Linked DNA regions of Homo sapiens: region 1 is linked to region 2. The links come from fine-mapping of genetic effects on gene expression. A gene starts in region 2. The other region holds a variant in brackets. All regions are shown on one strand. Distances are from middle to middle.

Evidence for each region.
Region 1: its variant is fine-mapped to the expression of NCSTN in whole blood (INTERVAL, PIP 0.98).

The regions. Positions count from the first base shown.
Region 1 is chr1:160,377,372-160,380,281 of GRCh38, forward strand. It overlaps LOC105371466 (a long non-coding RNA gene), which reads right to left. Exons shown (of 4, transcript XR_007066686.1): 4 at 44-689. Among named protein-coding and RNA genes, the nearest start is that of NHLH1, 12 kb to the left of the region's middle. The variant T/C (reference allele first, on the strand shown) is at 1,719.
Region 2 is chr1:160,341,739-160,344,648 of GRCh38, forward strand. It overlaps NCSTN (nicastrin), which reads left to right and starts at 1,645. Exons shown (of 17, transcript NM_015331.3): 1 at 1,645-1,743. The coding sequence starts at 1,659. It overlaps COPA (coat protein complex I subunit alpha), which reads right to left and starts at 1,512. Exons shown (of 33, transcript NM_004371.4): 1 at 1,393-1,512. The coding sequence starts at 1,432. RefSeq lists enhancers at 1,445-2,392, 1,665-1,714.

The sequences.
Region 1 (2,910 bases), 36 kb after region 2:
TGTCTATGTCCCTTTTATCCTTTCTAGCATTAAACTCCAGCCTCCTTCTTTTATAAGCTTGTAGCTACCTCTTTCATTGGTTGATTTCAATTTATTCAGTGCAGCATGCCTTTATGGAATAGCCAATGTATACCGGGCACTGTTCTGGATTCTGAAATACAGGATCAGGCCCTCCCCACCACCTACTTGGGAGGGAGTATGGGAGACAGGCATGTAAACATATCAGTTTCCCAACAGTGAGAGGCATCTGCAAGGAAGCGAGTGATTACCTGAGAGAGGGTGTTGGTGAGGAAGGCAGCCGGTAAACTCTGAGCTGGGTTTTGAAGACCATGAGATACGTACAGTGAATTCTGTGGTGTGCTCCACTCACTTCTCCAGCTGTGGAAGTGTTGACTCACAGCTGAGTCCCTCTCCAGGAATTGCCTTTGGAGGAAGAAAGCCGCCTTGCCTGAGGTGTTGCTCTTTCCCTAGGGCAATGACTGGTTGATGTGGGGTTACAAAGTTATCCCAGCTTGAGAGCCCCCATGGGATGGACAGAAGCCTCTGTTGCCATTGCATTGCTTTTCAGTTTCTCTCTCGGCTTATTGCAGCTTCCCTCACACCTCACAGGTGTTCTCAAGAACTCTCCTGCTGGCACTCTCCTGTATACGATCTCAGAGTTCAGGAATCCACTTCCCAGGGAACCCCACCTACAAAGGAAAGGCACTGTAGGTATGAAGGCATGGAACCCTGAGAAGCTCTGGTGAGCAAGAGCACACTATTAGCAGTGTGGTATTGTTGGGACATTAAGTGCAAGGGGCTGGTGGGACAGGAAAGTGACGGAATGGTCTGGAGAGGTAAGCAGGGGCCAGGTCAGGAGAAGCATAATAGGGAGTGTGTGCTTGGCCACACAGTGATGGGAAACCAATGAACATTCTCTAGTGGGGTAGATAAACACTATCATCAGATGTACACTTTAGAAATATCACTTTCAGAACATTTCTTTCTTTCTTTCTTTCTTTCTTTCTTTTTTTTTTTTTTAAGAGAGAGTCTTGCTCTGTCACCCAGGCTGGAGTGCAGTGGTGCAATCTCGGTTCACTGTAACCTCTGCCTCTGGGTTCAAGTCATTCTCCTGCCTCAGCCTCCTAAGTAGCTGGGATTATAGGTGTGCACCAACACACCCGGCTAATTTTTTATTTATTTATTTTTTGAGATGGAGTCTTGCTCTGTCGCCAGGCTGAAGTACAGTGGGGTGATCTTGGCTCACTGCAATCACCGTCTCCTGGGTTCAAGCAATTCCCCTGCCTCAGCCTCTCAAGTAGCTGGGAGCACAGGCGGGCACCACCACGCCCGACTAATTTTTTGTACTTTAGTAGAGACGGGGTTTCACCCTGTTGGGCCAGGCTGGTCTCGATCTCCTGACCTCAAATGATCTGCCTGCCTCGGCCTCCCAAAGTGCTGGGATTAGAGGTGAGAGCCACCACGCCTGGCCACTTTTAGGACATTTCTGATCATAGCTGCGTAAAGGTAAGCTCTGTGCAGGGAACAGTTTTAGGAGGCTATCGCAAAGTCAGCTGCAAGAAGCTGAGGGTCTGTATTTAGGTAGCGGCAGTAGGAATGGGGAAGGGAGGACAGATTTAGGAAGCTATTTAAATGGTAGATTCAACAGGATGTCGTGATTCATTAAATGTGGCAGGCTAGAGGAGAACTCCCAGGTTTCTGGCCTGGGAGCCTGGGTG[T/C]ACAGTGGTGCTACTTTCCAAAGTAGCACACGTAGGAAGAGGAACGTTGTGGAGAATTGTGGTGGAGATGGTGGCAGTAAGGTGGTGTAATAAGGACAAACTGAATGAAAGCCCCCCAGGAGCCTTCCCGTGGAGCTGCCCAGAAGGAAGTTGGCTTTCTGGGTTTGTAGCTGAAAAGTTGTACCTCTTTACTAGGATATCTCCCAGGAATGTCCAACGCCACATGTTGCAAACTGGCCACCTTATCTTCTCCCCTCTTCAACCCTCCTCCTCTCCTGGTATCCCCACGGCAAAACATGGTATCATCAACATTCAGTTGCCGTGACTATTGCTACATGTTTTTCCCTCTAGTCTCACCTCCAATCCATCATCAGTAGCTATTCATTTTACCTCCTAAACATGACTTCTGTTTTTCTACCAGTTCTACCAATGCTTTTCTTCACCTGGACTATTGCGGTGGCCTAGCTAGTCTCCCTGCCTTTCGGCTTCCTCCCCGTAGGTCCACCCTTCAGGCTGCCCTCAGACTTAGCTACCCAAAATGCAAACTGAACCAGGACACTTCTACACTATCCTTTTAATGATTCCCCATTATTTCCCCAGGATAAAACCCAAGTTCTTCAACATGGTATGAAAGTCCCTTCACAGTGCAGCTCCTGCCAGTTTGTCCAGCCCCATCGGCCATTCTGTCCTTTGTACTTTTTGCTCTAACAATTCGAAGGCACTCAAAGCTCTCTGGCACAGTCCATGTTACTCCTGACTGCCGTTCCTTTGCTCCCGTTGTTCCTCCTCCTGTACTTCACCTATACGAGTCCTATTCATCCTTCAAGACAATGCAGATGTCCTTGCCTTCAGAAAAGTACCCCAACTTGGTGTGTCTCTCCTATAGCCCCAGCTTGGCTCCTGGTGTGCTCCCTGGTCTTTCTATGCATATCTCTATCATTGCACTCACCACATTGAACTTTACTGAAATCATCTATCTGCTAGCACATGGATTTCAGTGTGACCTGGGGTGAGTTACTTCAAATCTCTGAACATGTTTTCTTTTTTTTGTTTGTTTGTTTCTTTGTTTGTTGTTTTGAGACAGAGTCTCCCTCTGTCACTCAGGCTGGAGTGCAGTGGCCCAATCTCAGCTTACTGCAACCTCTGCCTCCCAGGTTCAAGCAATTCTCGTGCCTCAGCCTCCCGAGTAGCT
Region 2 (2,910 bases):
GTGAGGTGGAACTATTTTAATTATTTATTGAACATTTACAATTTTTCTTCTAAATTGTCTATTTTTCCATTAGGTTCTTTTTTTTAATTATGATATATAAGTACACTCAACAATGGATGTTTGCCCTCAAATATTATGACATCTTTGTTTTTCCTTCTGTACTGCCCAGCAAGAAATTAGGAGCAGAAAAGAAAACTGAAAGATTATGAAGACCCATTTCACATTTCACCTATACAGGTCTCAGAAATTCTTAATGGTACCCATCTTTCAAGGTCAAGTTTCCCAAGAGACTTAGAAACTGCTCAGAATATATTCACACATTGATAACAACCTCCAGTTTTTGAGCTACTGAGTCTACACCAGGCGCTGTAATAAATACACTCCATATACTTTCTCATTTTAATACTCTCTATAAAAGACGATTTTACAGATGAGGAAATACAGACTTAGAGACATTAAGTAAGTCATCCAAGTCACAGCTTGTTAGTGGATGTCTCAGGATTCCAAGGCAAGCCCATCTGACTTCAAAGACCAAGTTCCTAACCACTTTGTTACGCTGCATCTCACTAAATATTCTAGATACTATTTTTTCCAGGTCTTCGGAGACCTTACTTCTCTGACTTTCACATTCTAACGTTCTGAGGCTAATACTGCGATCTCAGTATTTGCCCTCCACCCCCAACGACCCACACTCGAGCTCTAGAGCTGCCGTACTTAGCAAATAAAAATACGAGATTTCCAGATAAATTTGAACTTCTGGTAAGCAACGACAGACTAAAAAACTATTCATTGTTTACCTGAAATTCAAATTTAACTGGGTATCCTGCATTTTATCTGGCAACTCTATCAAGTTGAGACTTTATTGGGGTTATAAGCCTCAAGTACTATTTCCGGGTAGTAAATAAAGCCGAATGGAGGCACTGATGTTGAGATGCTGCAGCCAAGGCCTCCTTAAGTGAGGTTGCCACTACTCGTCTCCAAAAAGGCTACTGACTCGGGTGCGAGTAACAGAGATCGAGACTCAGTTCCCAGGGCCACTCCATATAACACAGTCATCAAAAAGCCAACAGATCACAGGGCCTTTGGAGCAGAACAACACAAATCGGGAGCACAGCCAAGAGAGAAAGGGGGAAGAAAGAATAGGGAGGGGGTCTAAGGAATCCCCTGCAGTGTGGGAGCCACTTTATAGGTAAATCGAAGCCCAAGGACACACCAAAGAAGAGGGGACTGGAGAACCGCTAGCCAGGCCCAACCTCTCTCCCACCCTCCGTCTTCCTCCGGGTCCGTCTGGTGGGCCCATTTCGACCAACACCTCTACCCATTTTCTCTTCCCCGGTGTCAGCGCCGCTCCTGACATCCAACCTCCATGTTCCCCCTTTTATTCTCCACTACCTTTGACCCGCGCGCTCTTGGTCTCGAATTTGGTTAACATCTCTCAGGTCTCCGACTCCGATGTCTTAATCCGAGCCCCGACACACCCTGCTGCCCTTCGGACGCCTCCACGTCAGCGACCCTCTCCCGCGGTTTCCGGAAGCGCCTGGAAACACGAACTTCCGGTCTCTTAGGCTCCGGGCCACAGAGACGGTGTCAGTGGTAGCCTAGAGAGGCCGCTAACAGACAGGAGCCGAACGGGGGCTTCCGCTCAGCAGAGAGGCAAGATGGCTACGGCAGGGGGTGGCTCTGGGGCTGACCCGGGAAGTCGGGGTCTCCTTCGCCTTCTGTCTTTCTGCGTCCTACTAGCAGGTGAGGCCTCCCCGCCCGTGAGCTCCGTTCTCTAAGGGGAACTCTCGGATCGGCCCCGCCGCGACCGCCACTGTCTCCCTTCTGGTTCCTGCTGCCCCTCTGTCCCCCCACCCTGTAAATCCTCTTTCTTTTTCGTTCCCACGACAGAAGTTCCCCCTTTGCCTGGACCTGAAGGTCCCTTCTCCCCCGCAGCACGTCGTGTCGCTTCACTCCCTTCTCTAGGCCTCTTCCTGGACTTCGAGCCTGACCCTCTCCCACTTTGTCCAGATGTCTCGTTTTTCCCACAACCCCAGCCACCCACCCCACAGTCGAAAGGAACAGGTGTGAAAGTTAGCTTTCTTCCTCGCGTTTAGACTTTTTGAGACGAAAGCAATCTTGTTCTGTGGGTGCTGTGCGGCGCTTAAAAGGTGGATTTCTTATTTCTTCCTCTGTTGATTACATCCTAAGTCTGTGTCCCCCTGCCTTGCCTCAGGTTTTTTTTTTTTTTTTTTTTTTAATCAGTAAAGCAAGAATAAGGTAGGATATGGGTACTCTTAACTGTGAAGACCCTGAAGTAACAATTCAAGGAACTTTTGGCATTTATAATGTACTTAAGTGTTTGCTGATACGCGTTCATTTACTGATACATGGCTTTTTAGTTGGTCAAGCCCTAAAATGCAAATGCCTGTATATAACTATGACTGTGCCTTCCCCCAATTCACATTGTTTTTAAGGATCCTCAAAGGAGAAACTACAGCTGCCCCACACTGTGGGCACACAAATGACCTGCTGATGTTAAATTAACTGACCCGTGTATGTCATAAGGTTTCTCTCAATTCTGTTCACACTCTTGGAAAAATGCCTCAGAAAGTTTTCTTAGCCCAGCACCTGTGTATTAACCAATTAGTAATATACATACAGGATATACAAGCAGAAGTGTGATCACCTGTGCAACCAGAATCTGGCAAATCTAAGGTCAAACACCTTTCCTTTGACCAAGTTTTCTCTCTTTTAGTGTCACTGTCAATGGCGCTACATGGACTTTGTAATAACCCTTTGAGGCACATAGCTGGGTGCCATGTAGAACATGTATCTGTTACGATAAGTGTGTGCCCAAGAAATCAGAAGAATGGACTTTAATCTCATTTTAGAAAGTATGATATTAAATGATTTACCCAAGCCATACTT